Linked DNA regions of Homo sapiens. Each later gene encodes a partner of the first gene's protein in a complex. Each region holds a gene or a part of one and is shown in the gene's direction. Other genes may lie near its edges. The genes, in order: CALR3 and CELF1.

Region 1 (9,054 bases):
CAGCTACTCGGGAGGCTGAGGCAGGAGAATCACTTGAATCTAGGAGTGGAGGTTGCGGTGAGCAGAGATCGTGCCATTGCACTCCAGCCTGGGCAACAAGAGCAAAACTCCATCTCAAAAAAAAAATTAAATTAAATAAATTAAAATAAATTTACCAAAAAAAAAAAATCTCACCGAAAATAGTTTTCTTTCTTCTTCCTCGCTGACGTTAGCGCTGCTGAAGCCTTGATTCGTGTTTTTTTCTCTAGAAGAGTCCATCAAGCTTCCTAGCAATACTTTCATTTCTTCTTCGTCACTGTCTGGAGAATCAAATGTTCTAGCAGGTTCTTTCTGTTTGGGGGTTTGCAAAGTCCTCTCTTTCCCAGCAGGTGCTTCAGGGGATATGTTTTCAACAGGTGCTTGTTTCTTCTTTAGAAACCTACTGACCTTCGCGTTCTGTGCATTATTTTCGGTGACAGGAAGTTCACGGGCTTGATTCTGGGAAGTTTTGTCTGTGTTCTGGGACGCGAGTTCGAGTGCACCCCCAGAGAGGATTCTGTCAGCTCTCTTTGGAAGACCAGCATCGGCGGTCATTGAGTCAGATTCCGTGTCAGACAAATTCCTCTGCAGCTTCCGATTCATGATCCGGGTTTCCAGCTGGGCCAGCTTCATGAGTGCGGCATTGGCTCGGATCCTGGAGGCAGTGGTGGGCGGTCTACATGAGGCAAGCCTGGGTCCACTCCCGAGCACAGGGTTCTCTTTCAGGAGTAAGTGTTTCTCATCTAGAGTTTGGTTTCTTTTTAGAAATCTGCTATGACCAGGTGCTATTTTGGTAAGATTTCTACTGATCTGGAAGTTTCTGATTTCTTCCATTGTTGAATCTTCCAAGGAAACATCACTGAAGTCACCAAAAACATCACGCATGGGACGGCTGGCTTTCCTTGCAGAAGCCATTCTGTGGAGGAAGAGGAGCAATTTTGCATAAGAGTACCTGCTGTTTGTATTGAGCATTCAATGGCTCCTACTTGGCAAAAGCTCACACTGTCTTTTGCAACCCAGCCACAGTCTTCCCTTCAAGCCCAAGGATGACAATGAAAATGACCAGGCTGGGTGCAGTGGCTCACACCTGTAATCCCAGCACTTTGGGAGGCCGAGGCAGGTGGATCACGATGTCAAGAGATTGAGACCATCCTGGCAAACATGGTGAAACCCCGTCTCTACTAAAAATACAAAAATTAGCTGGACGTGGTGGTGCACAACCTCTCAGGCTCAAGTGATCCTCCTGCCTCAGCCTCCTGTGTAGCTGGGACTACAGGTGCACACCACCATGCCTGCCACTGCACTCTAGCCTGGGCTACAGAGTGAAACCCTGTCTAAAAAAAAAAAAAAAGAAAAAGAAAAAAGAAAAGACAAATTACCTGAAAGAGCAATAAGGTGACGTGTGAAAATCGAGGTATCCCTGTATTTAACAAGCCCCCAGAAAATCAGATTTCACTTAGTGTAAGAACCATTACCAATGGCTGGGCTCAGTGGCTCACACCTATAATGCCAGCAGTTTAGGAGGCCAAGGCAAGCAGATCACCTGAGCCCAGGGGTTCGAGACCAGCCTGGCCAACATGGCAAAGCCCCATCTCTACTAAAAATACAAAAATTAGTCAAGCGCCAGGCGTGGTGGCTCATGCCTATAATCCCAGCACTTTGGTAGGCCGTGGTGGGTGGATCACGAGGTCATAAGTTCAAGACCAGTCTGATCAACATGGTGAAACCCCGTCTCTACTAAAAATACAAAAATTAGCCGGGCCTGGTGGCACCACCTGTAGTCCCAGCTACTTAGGAAGCTGAGGCAGGAGAATCGCTTGAACCCGGGAGGTGGAGGTTGCAGTGAGCCGAGATCACACCACTGCACTCCAGCCTGGACGACAGAGCGAGACTCTGTCTCAAAAAAAAAAGAAGAACCGCTACCCTGGGAAAGAGGGGGGCTATGGACAGGCACAGCTCCCCAGCAGGCCAGCAAATCTTTACCGTATGTGTATATTTTTCTAGGTAGAAATATCAGAGCTTTCATCATATTCTCAGAGTTCCCATATACCCCTGAAAGAGTATGAACAACCCACTGCAAGACTTACAAAGGCTTCCGAAGATTACAAAGACTTTAAAAGATGAAAAACTACAGGCCGGGTGCGGTGGCTCATGCCCGTAATCCCAGCACTTTGGGAGGCCAAGGCGGGTGGATCACGAGGTCAGGAGATCGAGACCACGGTGAAACCCCGTCTCTACTAAAAATACAAAAAAATTAGCCGGGCGTGGTGGCGGGCGCCTGTAGTCCCAGCTACTCCGGAGGCTGAGGCAGGAGAATGGCATGAACCCGGGAGGCGGAGCTTGCAGTGAGCCGAGACTGCGCCACTGCACTCCAGCCTGGGTGACAGAGTAAAACTCCGTCTCAAAAAAAAAGAAAAAAAAAAGATTCTATACAAGAATGAATTATGATTCCTATTAACAATCTGTTTCCCGAATAAACTTGTTTGCTTGTTCCTATCTTAACTACCCTGTACTAGGAGTGCCCAGCACAGGACTGACCACAGGGGTCAGAGAACAGAAAAATATGCCTGGCAGAAATAATGCAGACTTCCTGGTCTGTGTGACCCCGGGCAAGTTACTTAATCGCTCTGTGTCAGCCTGCTCATCTGTAAAAATAACAATTACTACCCTCATAGGATTCCTATATATTCTGTGTGGGACATGAAAAAGTGCTCAGTAACATTTAAATGCCAGTAACAGACTAGGCGTGGTGGCTCACGCCTGTAATCCCAGCACTTTGGGAGGCCGAGGTGGGCGGATCATGAGGTCAGGAGATAGAGACCATCCTGGCTAACACAGTGAAACCCCGTCTCTACTAAAAACACAAAAAATTAGCCGGGCGCGGTGGTGGGCGCCTGTAGTCCCAGCTACTCAGGAGGCCGAGGCAGGAGAATGGCATGAACCCAGGAGGCAGAGCTTGCAGTGAACCGAGATCGCGCCATTGCACTCCAGCCTGGGCAAAAGAGAGAGACTCCGTCTCAAAAAAAAAAAAGAAAAAAACCATGAGGAGCTACTACTTCACATCCCCTAGCATGGCTATAATCAAAAATACACGTAACAAGTGTCAGTGAGGAAGTGAACAGATTGAAGCCCACAGTGGCTCACACCTGTAATCCCAGCACTGTGGGAGGCCAGGATGGGAGGACTGTTTGAACCCATGAGTTCGAGACCAGCCTGGGCAACATAGGGAGACTCCATCTCTACAAAAAATGAAAAAATTAGCTGGGTCTGATGGCACACACCTGTAGTCCCAGTTACTCGGGAGGCTGAGGTGGGAGGATTGCTTGAGCCCAGGAGTTTGAGGCTGCAGTGAGCTATGATCGTGCCACTGGACTCCAGCCCGGATGATAGGGCAAGACCCTATCTCTAAAAAAAATAAAGAAATTGGAACCCTCATATGTTGTTGGGGGAATTGTAAAATTATGTAGTCCTCAATGTGGAAAACAGTTGGTTCCTCAAAAGGTTAGACATAGAGTTACCATGTGATCCAGGGATTCCACTCCCATGTGGCCCAAGAGAAATGCAAATGTATGCAAATGTTCGTAATAGTTTTGTTTTGTTTTGAGACAGGCTCTCACTCTGTTGCCCAGGCTGAGTGCAGTGGTGTTATCATGGCTCACTACAGCCTCGACCTCCCGGGGTCACGCGATCCTCCCACCTCAGCTTCCTGGGTAGCTGGGACTACAGACACACATTGCCATGCCTAGCTAACTTTTTGTAGAAACAAGGTCTCACTGTGTTGCCCAGGCTGTTCTCAGATTCCTGGGGTTCTAGAGATCCGCAGCCTCAGCCTCCCAAAATGCTGAGATTACAATCCCACATCATCATACCTGGCCCCATAATATTTATTACTCCTAGTAGACTAAAACGGAAAACAATGTAACTATCCATTAATTAGTGAATGGATTACAAACTATGGTCCATCCATACAGTGTAATACAGTTCAGCAATTTAAAAAACAAATACTAATATAACAGCACGCAGGAATCTCAAATACATCACGCTAAGGGAAAGTAGCCAAGCCGGGCGCAGTGGCTCACGCCTGTAATCCCAGCACTTTGGGAGGCTAAGGCGGGCGGATCACGAGGTCAGGAGATCGAGACCAGCCTGACACACATGGTAAAACCCCGTCTCTACTAACAATACAAAAATTAGCGGGGCGTGGTGTCATGCGCCTGTAATCCCAAATACTCAGGACGCTGAGACAGGAGAATTGCTTGAACCTGGGAGGCGGAGTTCGCAGTGAGCCGAGATCGCACCATTGCACTTCAGCCTAAGTAACAGAGCGAGAATCTGTCTCAAAAAAAAAAAAAAAAGGAAAGAAAAAAGAAAGTAGCCAGACACTAAACTCCACACACCCTATCATTTCATTTGTAAGAACTGTCAAGAAAAGGCAAACCAATAAACTCAGAAAGCAGATCGGGCCGGTGCTGTGACTCACGCCTATAATCCCAGCACTTTGGGAGGCCAAGGCTGGCAGATTACGTGAGGTCAGGAGTTCGAGACCAGCGTGGCAAACATGGTGAAACCCCATCTCTACTAAAAATACAAAAAATTAGCCGGAGTGCAGTGGCATGATCACAGCTCACAGCAGCCCTTGACCTCCTGGACACAAGCAATCCTCCCTCCTGCCTCAACATCCTGAGTAGCTGGGACTACAGGCGCGTGCCACTACACCTGGCTAATTTTTTATTTTTATCTTTTTTAGAGATGGGGTCTCGCCAGGTTGCCCAGGCTGGTCTGGATCTCCTGGCCTCAAGTGATCCTCCCGCCTCTGCCTCCCAAAGTGCTGGGATTCCAGGCGTGAATCACCGCGCCCGGCCTGACGCAAAGTTCTAAAGCTGGATGAGCTGGATGGTGGCGACGGCTTCACAACTTTGTAGATTTACTAAAAATAACGGAGTCGTCAGCTTAAAAGTGGCGAACACTATGGTATGTAAATGAAGGCTCAATAAAGTTGTTACAAATCAACAAACCAAAACTTGAAAACCCTGGCGCCCCTGAGACCATCCTGCTCTTCTCCCCAGCTATGAAGCGACCCGCGCAGGACCATGCTCCAATAGACCCCAGACAGGGAAACTGAGGCGCGGGACCATCCTGCAGCGGCCCAACCAGCTCAGCCCCGGAGAAGGCCCCATTTCCCCGTATCCCCCTCGCGAGCCCGGACGCCCAGCTAGGTCACCTCCCCACCAGCCCTGCCGACCTCTTCCCACGCCGTCCATTCGCAGAGGCAGCCGCCACATTCACGCCTGAAGGAGCGGTTGCCCTGGGCAACAGAGCCAGAGCAGAAGAGACTACATCTCCCGGGAAGCACCGCGCCCCGCAGACCAATGGCGCCCCGAATCACAATCGCGGGGTGTCATGGGAGCGGTAGTTCCGGGGCGGGCCCAACGTGCCCCGCGCCGCAGCGACCAATGGGACCCTCAGGTCATAATCGCGAGTTGTGACGGGAGTTGTAGTTTCGGGACGCGCCTGAAGAGCCGCAGAGAGAGCTGGGAGCTAAGGGGTGGCGGCGACCGGAAGCGCAGTGCACACCCCCATGGCCCGGGCTTTGGTCCAGCTCTGGGCCATATGCATGCTGCGAGTGGCGCTGGCTACCGTCTATTTCCAAGAGGAATTTCTAGACGGAGGTGAAGGGGCCACGCCCGTGGTGGCGGAGGTGTAAGCTCCCCCATCTCCGCCCCCTAAGGCTGGCCAGAGTCGCCACGGGGTCCACGGCAGCGAACCCTCGAATCCTCGAGGGTCCCCTTCACCCTTCCCTTAGCCCAAATTAACCATTATCACCTCTAACCGGTGTTATTTCCCCTTCCCCACAGAGCATTGGAGAAACCGATGGTTGCAGTCCACCAATGACTCCCGATTTGGGCATTTTAGACTTTCGTCGGGCAAGTTTTATGGTCATAAAGAGAAAGATAAAGGTTAGTGTAGAATCAGGACCAAATTGAGCCTAATGTTACATTTCCATAGCAACCTCTCTAGGTAGTTGTGGCACAGCCAAAACGCTTTTATTCCCGTTTTACAGATGAAGACATTAAGGCAAAGGTAGAACTTAAGGGGCTCCTTTCCTTGTTTTTTTGTTTCTTCTCTCCTTTTTTTTTTTTTTTTTTTTTGAGACGGAGCCTTGCTCTGTTGCCCAGGCTGGAGTGCAGTGGCGCGATTTCGGCTCACTGCAACTTCCACCTCCCGGGTTCAAGCAATTCTCCTGCCTCAGCCTCCCGAGTAGCTGAGACTACAGGCGCGCGCCACCATGACCGGCTAATTTTTGTACTTTTAGTAGAGACAGGGTCCACGTTGGCCAGGCTGGTCTCGAACTCCTGACCTCATGATCCACCCACCTTGGCCTCCCAAAGTGCTGGGATTACAGGCATGAGCCACAACATCCAGCCTCCTCTCTCCTTTCTTTATTGCCAAAGATTCCTTTTTTTTTTTTTTTTTTTTTTTGGTAGTAGGAGTCTCGCTCTGTCGCCTAGGCTAGAGTGCAGTGGCACGATCTTGGCTCACTCAAACCTCCGTCTCCCGGGTTCAAGTGATTCTCTTGCTTCAGGCTTCTGAGGAGCTGCGATTACAAGCGTGCGCCACCATGCCCTGCTAATTTTTTTAGAGACAGAGTTTCACCACATTGCCCAGGCTGGACTCAAACTCCTGGCCTTAAGTAATCCACCTGCCTCGGCCTCCTAAAGTGCTGGGATTATAGGCGTGAGCCATGGTGCTTGGCCTATTATCATTATTATTACTTTTATTGGTATTAGGTCCCCTGAAGTCCAAGGAGACATATTCAGCTTATTTGGTATAATAAAATCATACTTGAAGCACTGTCAAATATGCAATGGTATTTAACCTTCTTTGGATTATATTTATATGAATGTGTTATTAGTAGGCATTACCAAAATTGCCCCTCTTAATAGACACTAGTCAAGTGCATTTGAGGATCAAGGGCCATGCCCCTCAGAAGGAAAAGGTTAGTGGGTACTTTTTCTCATTTTAATTTTCGTATTAAAAAGAAAAATAGGCCAGGCGCGGTGGCTCATGCCTGTAATCCCAGCACTTTGGGAGGCCTTAGGCGAGCGGATCATGAGGTCAGGAGTTCAAAACCAGTCTGGCCAATACGGTGACACCCTGTCTCTACTAAAAATACAAAAATTAGCTGGGTGTGGTGGCTCATGCCTGTAGTCCCAGCTACTCGGGAGGCTGAGGCAGAAGAATCACTTGAACCCGGGAGGCAGAGGTTGCAGTGAGCAGAGATCATGCCCCTGCACTCCAGCCTCAGTGACAGAGTGAGACTCCATCTCAAAAAAAAAGAAAAATATGGTCAGGCACGGTGGCTCACGCCTGTAATCCCAGCATGTTGGGAGGCCAAGGCAGGCGGATTACTTGAAGTCAGGAGTTTGAGACCAGCCTGGTCACCATGGTGAAACCCTGTCTCCACAAAAATACAAAAAAGTTAGCCAAGTGTGGTGGCGCACAACTATAATCCCAGCTAATTGGGAGGCTGAGGCAGAAGAATCGTTTGTACCCAGGAGGCAGAGGTTGCAGTGAACTGAGATTGTACCACTGCACTCCAGCCTGGGTGACAGAATGAGACTCCATTTCAAAAAATAAAAGAAAAAAATACAGAGATAAACATTACATCTTGTCGCCTGCACATTCTTCAGGGTACAACACAATGAGCTTTTACTTTTGTACAGGCAGGTCAAGATAAGGCAAGCGAATCACTTGAGGTTGAGACCAGCCCGGCCAACATGGCGAAACTCCGTCTCTATTAAAAATACAAAAATTAGCTGGGCATGGTGGCACACATCTATAATCTCACCTACTTCAGAGGCTGAGGCAGGAGAATCACTTGAACCCAGGAGGCGGAGGTTGCAGGGAGCCAAGATCATGCCACTGCACTCCAGCCTGGATAACCGAGCAAGACTCTGTCTCAAGAAAAAAAATATATATATATACAAATATTAGCCGAGCATGGTGGCATAGGCCTGTAGTCCCAGCTACTTGAGAGATTGAGGCAGGAGAATCACATGAACCCGAGAGGCGGAGGTTGCAGTGAGTCGAGATCGTGCCACTACACTCCAGCCTGGGCAACAGAGCAAGACTCTGTCTCAAAAAAAAAAAAAAAAAAAAAAAAATTCTAGCTTCAAGAGAGCTAATTCAAGCTCAAAGTTTAAGGACAACTGTGTGGAAAACACAGATCCCAAAGAATAGAAGTCAGTGTTCTGAAGTGTAGAAGTTTGGGATCATTTGTATAGACAAAGTTTAGAGAAGCTTAACAGAATTTCAGCATCTTTCTAGGCAAGGCTTGATAGATAATGACCATGATCCCATTAGTCAAGGTGGTCTTTTTCTTTTGAGAAGGTATATTTAACATTTCACCCTGAAGATGTAACAGTCACGGCATCTTTTGTGCCATCTGGTCTGAGTTAGGTACAGGTCAGTCCTGGAGGCAGTTAATCTGTAACTAAGGTCAGTGGTCACAAATAGAGGAGGCCTGGTCTCTGGTTTGTCCTAGTCATTTGCCAAACAAGAACAATGAGGAAGAAGGTTTATCTATGATTTAAGAAGCAGAGGTTACACCTGCATGCTGCATGACTCAGATCACACAACTTGCTCAAGGTTTTTATTTATTTTATGTATTTATTTGAGAGAGAGTTTCACCCTTGTTACCCAGGCTGGAGTGCAATGGCGTGATCTCTGCTCACCACAACCTCCGCCTCCCAGGTTCAAATGATTCTCCTGCTTCCAGCCTCCCAAGTAGCTAAGATTACAGGCATGTGCCACCACACCTGGCTAATTTTTTTTTTTTTTTTTTTGAGACGGAGTCTCGCTCTGTAGCCCAGGATGGAGTGCAGTGGCGCGATCTCGGCTCACTGCAAGCTCTGCCTCCTGGGTTCACGCCATTCTTCTGCCGAGTAGCCGGAACTACAGGCGCCTGCCACCACGCCCGGCTAATTTTTTGTATTTTTTTTTTTTTAGTAGAGACAGGGTTTCACGTGTTAGCCA
Region 2 (9,177 bases), on another chromosome or scaffold:
ATATTGTAGCTGGGACTACAATTATATATTATATATACATTATATTATATTGTATATATATATTATTGGCTGCAATATATATTGGCTGCAATATATATATTATTGGCTGCAATATATATTATATATATATTATATATACAATTATATATATTATATATATTATATATACAATTATATATAATATATGTCATAATATTATATATTATGACATATATTATATATAATATATTACATATTATATTATGTAATATATTATATCTAATATATTACACATTATATTATATATTATATTGCACATATTTTATACATATATAATATAAATATATATATATATTTATATATTATATATAAATATATATAATATAAATATATAAATATATACATATACATATATTATTTATATAATATAATATATTAAATATATAATATATATATGAGGGTTTCATCTAATATATTATATATATATATAATATATATATGAGGGTTTCATCTAATGCTTTTATCCATTGATGGCTATTGACTAGATCCATTATTTTACCAAAATGCAGATTTTCTGATTATATATATAAAACACTCATAGGAAATTTGACCATAGAGGGATCAGGCTCGGGCCACCTCAACCACTGATGAGTCTGTGTCAGTAAAAGCAGGACAGACAACTTGACATCATAGGCTATAGGCCTCCAGATGTGATGCAGTGTGACGCTCGCAGCACCGCCTGAATGTAACCAGGCCTTAAGAGTTTTCTTTCCGGCCATGCGCGGTGGCTCACGCCTATAATCCCAACACTTTCGGAGGCTGAGGCGGGCAGATCACCTGAGGTTAGGAGTTCAAGACCAGTCTGGCCAACATGGTGAAACCCTGTCTCTACTAAAAATACAAAAAATTAGTTGGGCATGCTGGCAGGTACAGGTAATTCCAGTTACTCGGGAGGATGAGGCAGGAGAATCTCTTGAACCCAGGAGGCGGAGGTTGTAGTGAGCCGATATTGCATCATTGCACTCCAGCCTGGGCAACAAGAGCAAAACTCCATCTCAAAAAAAAAGAGTTTTCTTTTTTTCTTTTAGAGACAAGGGCAGGGCGAGGTGGCATGTGCCTGTAAGTCCCAACTACTCTGGAGGCTGAGGCAGGGGGATCACTTGAGTCCAGAAGTTCTGGGCTATAGTGCAGTATGTCAATCAGGTGTCTGCACTAAGTTCTGCATCAACATCGTGACCTCCAGAGAGTGGGGGACCACCAGGTTGCCTAAGGAGTGGTGAACCGGCTCAGGCTGGAAAAGAAACAGGTCAAAACTCCCATGCTGATCTGTAGTGGAATCATGCCTGTGAAAAGTCACTGCACTCCAGCCTGGGCAACGGAGCGAGACTCCGTCTCAAAAAAAAAAGAAAAATAGGCCGGGCGTGATGGCTCACCCCTGTAATTGAAGCACTTTGGGAGGCCAAGGCGGGTGGATCATGAGGTCAGGAGATCGAGAGTACCCTGGCTAACACGGTGAAACCCGTCTCTACTAAAAATACAAAAAATTAGCCGGATGTGGTGGCATGTGCCTGTAGTCCCAGCTACCCGGGAGGCTGAGGCAGGAGAATCGCTTGAACCCGGGAGGGGGAGGTTGCAGTGAGCTGAGATTGTGCCACTGGACTCCAGCCTGGGCCACAGAGCCAGACTCTGCCTCAAAAAAAAAACAAAACAAAACAAACAAAACCAAGAAAGAAAAGTAAATAGGCCGGGCGTGGTGGCTCCCGGCACTTTGCGAGGCTGAGGCGGGCGGATCACTTGAGGTAAGGAGTTCAAGGCCAACCTGACCAACATGGGGAAACCCCGACTCTACTAAAAATACAAAAATTAGCTGGGCGTGGTGGTGTGCACCTGTAATCCCAGCTACTCAGGAGGCTGAGGCAGCAGAATCGCTTGAATCTGAGAGGCAGACATTGCAGTGAGCCAAGATGGTGCCACTGTACTCCAGCATGGGCAACAGAGCAAGACTCCGTCTCAAAATAAATAATAAATAAATAAATAAATAACCAAATAGAGACAGGGTCTTACTCTGATGCCTAGGCTGGAGTGCAGTGTCGTGATCATAGCTCACTGCAACCTGGAACTCCTGGGCTGAAGGGATCCTCCTACCTCAGCTTCTTAAGTAGTTGGAACTGCAGATGTACATGCCACCATGCCAGGCTAACATTTTTAAATTTTTTATTTATATGGAGATGGTGTCTTGTTATGTTGCCTGGGCTGGTTTTGAATTCCTGGCCTCAAACAGTCCTCCTGCCTTGGCCTCCAGGGTAGCTGGGATTATGGGAGTATGCCATCATGCCTGGCTATCATCATTTCCTCTATATTTATCTATTATTATATGGCTATGAATGAACCATAATTTATCAATCTCATTTTGTATCAAATTTTATGCTGTTTAAACAATGTTATGGTCAGGTGTCATGGCTCGCACCTGTAATCCCAAAACTTCGGAAGGCCGAGTGGGGAGGGTTGCTTGAGCTCAGGAGTTTGAGATCAGCCTGGGCAACATAGTGAGACCCCTGTCTCTACAAAAGAAAAAAAATTAGTTGGACATGGTGGCACACACCTGTGATCTCAGCTACTCACAAGGTTCTGGTGGAAGGATCTCATGAACCCAGGAGTTCAAGGTTGCTGTGAACTATGATAGCACTACTACACTCCAGGCTGGGTGACAGAGCAAGACCCTGTGTCTAGAAAAGTAAAATTAAAAAAATAAAAAATGTTACAATCTCTGCCATTATCCATGAATATTCCCTTAGGATAAATTCCTAGAAAGGTATGTAAAAGTTTAGATTCCTCTAGGCAGATTATCTGAACTTTACTCCCATCACCACTTGGAGAAGGCTATTTCTCTGCACTCTTACTAACACTGGCTTTTTTTTTTTTTTTTTTTTGAGACAGAGTCTTGCTGTGTCGCCCAGGCTGGAGTGCAGTGGTTCGATCTCGACTCACTGCAACCACCGTCTCCCAAGTTCAAGCTATTCTGCCATCTCAGCCTCCCGAGTAGCTGGGATTACAGGCACCCGCCATCATGCCTGGCTAACGTTTGTATTTTTTAGTAGAAACAGGGTTTCACCAGGTTGGTCTTGAACTCCTGACCTCAGGTGATCCATCTGCCTCGGCCTCCCAAAGTGCTAGGATTACAGGCATGAGCTACCGCGCCTGGCCGACATTGGCTATTTTTTAAAAAAAATAAATCTTAATCTATTTGTAAGGCAAAACATGAAACAGGAAGCTTTACATACTCTTAAATCTCACACTAGGCTTTTTTTGTATTTGGACTGTTTAGCATTTTGTCTATGTTGCTGAAACCCTTTGAAGTTACAAGATCTATTTGTGTTCTTCATGTAATTGTTCTTCCCCCCAACCTTGGGCTAACAGTCTGTGGCCTTCCTTGGTAACTAAATGCAAGAGTGATATTAATACCTTACAAGTTCCTCCCTTGCAAATGGGAGCCCTAAGTCAAGGCACAGATAGAATAGGAAAAAGCTTCTGGTTGCTCTTCAAGAAGTTTATCGAGTTAGATACAGTGAAAAGCAATGGAGATATTAGGAGAATAACAAGATGGGCATGGAAGAGTTTCTGTTTGCTCTTCAAGAAATATCTATTGAGTCAGATATTGTGAAAAGCACTGGAGATATAATAAGACGGGCATGGTGCCTTTCCTTATTTAGCTCATGGGCAGGTTCCAAGAAGCTTCTAAAGGCGCAACATTTTGTTTTCCATATCTGGCACCTAGATATACCTATTCAGTAAGTCAACAATATTTATTGAGCATGTACTATGGATTAGGCATTATCAAGGCCCTGAGGATAGAGCAGTGAAATAAAACAGACAAAACCTCTATCCTCATGAAGTTTACCTTTGGTTTACCTTCTGGGCTACTGTCAATAAAACAAGTAAAATATATAAATACAAAATATACTGTGAGGCCGGGTGCAGTGGCTCACGCCTGTAATCCCAGCACTTTGAGAGGCAGAGGCGGGCAGAACACTTGCAGTCAGGAGTTTGAGACCAGCCTGACCAACAGGGGTTGAAACCCCGTCTCCACTAAAAATACAAAAATTAGTCAGGCATCGTGGCACGCGCCTGTAATCCCAGCTACTCGGGAGGCTGAGGCAGGAGAATTGCTTGAACCTGGGAGGTGGAGGTTGCAGTGAGCCGAGATCGCGCCACTGCACTCCAGCCTGGGTGACAAGAGCTAGACTCCGTCTCAAAAAAAAAAAAAAACTGTGTTAGATAATGATAAATGTTTTGGATAAAAATGAAAGTGGGATTGAAAGCATGGGTGTGTGTGTGTGTGCACATGCCATGCATGCAAGCAGTGTAAAATAGAGTGCTTAGGGAAGACTGGACTGAGAAGGTGACACTTAAGTCAAAGTCTGAAGGAGGTGAGGAAGTGAGCCATGTGGATATCCACATGATTCTATGGAGCACAAAAGGAGACAGACTCTCTGCTTGAAACATTTCTACAACCTATAGCAGCAAATATATGGTAATATTTGTGACAACATTCTGTAAGCTATAATGGTCTATAAATATAGGATGTTTTCAGTCAACTACACATAAAACTATTAACAAGAACAAGATCATATATCAGCATTATGAATGTATATAAAACTACCCAGTACAATTAGGGAATATGATCATGTACAATTTAAGGACTATATGGTACCAGAAAAACTCTGGTTAGTTTTTTTCCCCCCCAAAGGCGAAAGAGGAAAACCCTTGAGGCTTCTGCTTGGAAGCCCACTTGTTGTTTGTGGTAAGGTAGGATATAATCAGTATTTGTGGGTATAAAAATTATATTCTCTGGGAAGCCAGATGATGTTAGAGAGAAACCATCCCATGAGTTATTTGCATGTTGATGGGGCCAAAAGCTTCCAGAACAAAGTTTTCTTTCTTAATCTGCATTTAACTGCCTCACAAGGTCTGGAACCTAGGAATAAATGTTGGCTTAAACAACAACAACAACAACAACAAATTGTACTGCTTGCGTTCCATCTAGACCCAGGGATTCCAGAGTAACTCAGGAGGAAGTCTTTAGAGACCTAACCTGAGTTAAGAAAAAAAAATATATATATATATTTTTTTTTCGGTAAAAGCAGGTTATGGCTGGGCAATCGGTCTCTTAATAGAATCTTTGTGAACTTCCTTATGTCGCAGCGATCGTTGCCAGGTTGTGCGTTCACACTGATTATCTTGCTAAAAAGCACTCCCTGCACTTGGAACACACATATTCACATCCCAGCAAAGAAGGAAGGCCTGGATGCTGTTGCTTGTCTGCTGGGGCAAAAAGGGGCGTGCCATGTGCCCAACGCTGGCCAAGCACCAGTCACTCACTCATCCATTTATTCAACAAATATCTTATTATGCTCCTATTCAGTGCCCAGTAGGGGTGCCTCCTTGCCCACCAGGGTCATCTAGAGCTCCTGTGGGTGCGATGGGCGGAGTCGAGAACTTCAGATTCCCAGGCCTGGCTCTTCCCTCCAGTAGGGATCGGAGACAAAGAGATGCGCCCCTGCAGCTCCCTAGGTTGAGGGCTCCGCCCGCGGCCCCAGGGGCTTAGGTGCGGCTGCTCCTCCACTTCCCAGCCCGAGGGGGCGCTGCAGCGCCCGGCGCTCGGCCCGCCCCTACGCCGCGCTCCGCTCGCATCGGCGCTGCGGGCGGCGCCGCGGTGATACGTTCCCCCTCGCCGCGCTCCCCCTCCTCCTCTGCCCTCCCCGCCGGTGGTAGGTGCCGGAAGTGCCGCCATTTTGGGGTGTTCTGCTCTGGCGGCAGCGGCAGCGGCGGCGGGACGCGGAGGCTCCCCCGGGATTCGGCCTCAGCAGCGAGGCGGCGGCGGCGGCTGCGGAGGCGCAGGCAGCAACTGAGGCAGCGGCAGGCTCAGGTGCAGCCGCTGGTGAGTGCTGCGGCCGCAGGATAACGGGCCGCGGGAGGGAGGGAGGGGAAAAAAGGCAAGAGGGAGGCGCCGCGGGGCGGGTCCGGTTAGGGAGGCCGCGGGTCACAGGGCCCTCCGGGCGCGGCCTTTTCTCGTTCCCTGCGTCCTGGGGTAGGGCTGCGATCTCCTCCTGCATGTCGGGGTCCCCGGCTCCCCGGGTCCTGTCGCGTTTGCCCAGCGCGTGCCCCCGCGCCCAGGGAGACCCGCCCTCCTCGTGGCTTTGCTTCCTCTCCCCGCGCCCTTTACCTTCACTCTCTAGGCTCAGAGGCCTCGTGCCCTGCCCAGGGCCAGCTCCGTTTTCCTCGTCTTTCTGGCTGCCGTGCTGGACCCAGGCTACCTGCCCGGGACACCCCATCTCTGCCCCTGTCGTCTCACGTGTTCTTAGTGTCCACTCCTGTGGGTGCCGAAGGGTCCGCGCCCCTAGAAGGCAGCGCTTTTCCCGAGCCTCGAGAGCCCCTCGTTCCTCGCCCCAGATCCGCTACGGCCTTGGCTCGCCCTCCCCCCACATCAGGTGCTCACCCAGTCGTGGCCTAGTAGCTGGGCAGGAATCTCGCACCCGGGAGCGGGAGGAGCACATTAAAGCGCTTTCTTCGCTAGGGACCAGGCTTTGATTTTAAAGCCAGTGGTGTCGTGGTTGTGGTCCTCCGGGTAGGATGTTGTTGTAATTCTTGGAGACCATTACACATGCACCAAGGAGCTTCTCATTGGTTTAGGCTCATACCCATAGTTGAGGGGAATGTGGTAAGATTTTGACTGGAATCTGTTTCCGCAAAATGGAATCTCTTTCTCGCCAGGAGAGAGCTGTAGGTTTATTACCTTCGAGTAAAAAGGCTGTATAACAGTTTTAAAGAGCATGAAATGCTTTATAATGTGTGCAGTGTAAGAGGTTACAAATAATGAATCTTTTACAAGAACTTCATCTTTTTTTTTTTTTTTTTTAAGACGGAGTTTCGCTCTTGTTGCTTAGGCTGGAGTGCAGTGGCGCTATCTCGGCTCACTGCAACCTCCCCAGGTTCAAGCAATTCTCCTGCCTCAGCCTCCCAAGTAGCTGGGATTACAGGCATGTGCCACCAGGCCTGGCTAATTTTCGTATTTTTAGTATAGACGGGGTTTCACCATGTTGATCAGGCTGGATGGTCTCGAACTCCTGACCTCGGGTGATCCACCCGCCTCGACCTCCCAGAGTGCTGGGGATTACAGGCGTGAGCCACCGCCCCCGCCCGGAACTTCACCTTTTAAAGTTCTTTTCACTGTCTTTGATTACCCATGAATTGGGAAGGCTTTAATTGGATGCTTTCCCCTTGCCCACAAGTGTAGCTTCTCTCCAAGCGCTTTGGAAGTTTCAGCCTCTCTATTAATCCTTGGTGAGAATGAAGGCGTCTCAATATAGAATCACCCTTTCTGTTTTAGCATTAAAGAGTCCACTTAGAAAATCATGGAATTACAATAGCATGCACAAACTGTTGCTACAGTGATTTTCTTCTCATGTTAATTTTTATATTCTTCAGGCTTTACTTACCTAGTATGTGGTTTCTGATCATGAGTTAGCCAAGATTGAAGCAGCACTGTTGGTAAAGCAAAGCTGGAGCTTTCAGTTGTTGCTTTAACCAGGAAGGTTATGGTTCCCCTAGTGGTTCTTTCCTCATGACAGTCCACCACCTGTTTCCATTAAGAATGGCCTTTGGCCCAGATCACAGGCCTCAACTTCTATTCAACCATTCATTCTGACCCCTTTAAAGAAAACCCAGGGTTTTCTTTAGAGATTGTGCTATCTAGACTTAAGATCTGGTAGCAAGAGGGGCTGTTAGAGATGGAATATCTTTTCTAGAACCCCTTCACTTTTTGGATGAGGAAACTGAGGGCCCTAGAAATTAAGTGACTTACTTGCCCAAGGTTATGTTTTTTTTTTTTTTAAACAATATCACGAGTAATAATGCAATCTTCCCTTTGAGGTGTAATGAAATGGGAAAGGACCCTGAATTGAAGTTAGAACTAGGCCTGGATTGTAATGCTTGCTCTGTCATTTACTGGTTACACAACCTTGGCAAGTCACTCAACTGTTCTGCTCCTCAGTTTATTCGCACCTGCAAAATGAAAGAAACAGCATCTGTCTCACATGGTATTAGTTCAGCTTCAGTAACATGGTGAAATACCCATGATGTAATAGGCAGACAGTGAAGTTTTTAGCCAAAATGATTTTTTTCTAAAGACTTCCGTGTATTTTTCTTAATACAGAAGTTACAGATTCACTATAAAAAAAAAACAGGTAAGTCAAAAAATGAAGAAACTCACCCATAGTGCCACCACTCAGAGATGATTGTTAAATATTGGGTCTTTATCTTGCCCATCCTTTTCATATGCTATAGAAATGCCTATCTTCCCAAAATAGGCTTATCTTAGTCACAGTTTTGTGATGTGGGTCCGGTCCCCCCCAACCCCGCCATGGAGTCTTGCTCTGTCAACCATACTGGAGTGCTCACTGCACACCCTGTCCCCCGGGCTCAAGCAGTTCTCCTGCCTCAGCCTCCCGAGTAGCTGTGATTACAGGCGCCCACCACTGCGCCCAGAGGGTTTTTGTATTTTTAGTAGAGATGGGGTTTCACCATGTTGGCCAGGCCGATCTAGAACTCCTGACCTCAGGTGATCTGCCCACCTCAGCCTCCCAAAGTACTAGGATTATAGGTGTAAGCCACCGTACCCGGTGTTTTTTTTTGTTTGTTTGTTTTTGTAGAGACAGGGTGTCACTGTTTTGCCCAGGCTGGTTTTGAACTTCGGATTACAGATGTGAGCCACTGAGCCTGGCCTACATTTTAAAATTGTGGTTAAAAACACAAAATTGGCTGGGCGCAGTGGCTCACACCTGTAATCCCAGCACTTTGGGAGGCTGAGGTGGGCGGATCACGAGGTCAGGAGTTCGAGACCAGCCTGGCCAATATGGTCAAACCCCATCTCCACTAAAAATACAGAAATTAACCAGGTGTGGTGGCATGTGCCTGTAGTCCCAGCTACTTGGGAGGCTGAGGCAGGAGAATCCCTTGAGCCCAGGAGGTGGAGGTTGCAGTGAGCTGAGATTGCACCACTGCACTCCAGCCTGGGCAACAAGGCAAGACTCTGTCTCAGAAAAAAAAAAAACAAAAAAAACCCACAACATTTACTAACTTAGCCATTTTTAAGTGTTCTGTGACATTAAGTACATTCGCACTGTTGGAAAACAGATCTGT

The links.
Region 2: CALR3 (region 1) and CELF1 share a complex: the UniProt entries of both Homo sapiens proteins name them as parts of the EIF2 complex.

The regions. Positions count from the first base shown.
Region 1 is NC_000019.10:16,492,672-16,501,725, reverse strand, and holds the start of CALR3 (calreticulin-3 precursor), read left to right. Parts: upstream 1-5,558; 5' UTR 5,559-5,596; coding exon 5,597-5,687; intron 5,688-5,873; coding exon 5,874-5,975; intron 5,976-9,054. Other genes in the region: uncharacterized protein C19orf44, read right to left, coding at 175-933. UniProt on the Homo sapiens protein: During spermatogenesis, may act as a lectin-independent chaperone for specific client proteins such as ADAM3. Required for sperm fertility. CALR3 capacity for calcium-binding may be absent or much lower than that of CALR.
Region 2 is NC_000011.10:47,549,732-47,558,908, reverse strand, and holds the start of CELF1 (CUGBP Elav-like family member 1), read left to right. Parts: upstream 1-5,776; 5' UTR 5,777-5,917; intron 5,918-9,177. UniProt on the Homo sapiens protein: RNA-binding protein implicated in the regulation of several post-transcriptional events. Involved in pre-mRNA alternative splicing, mRNA translation and stability.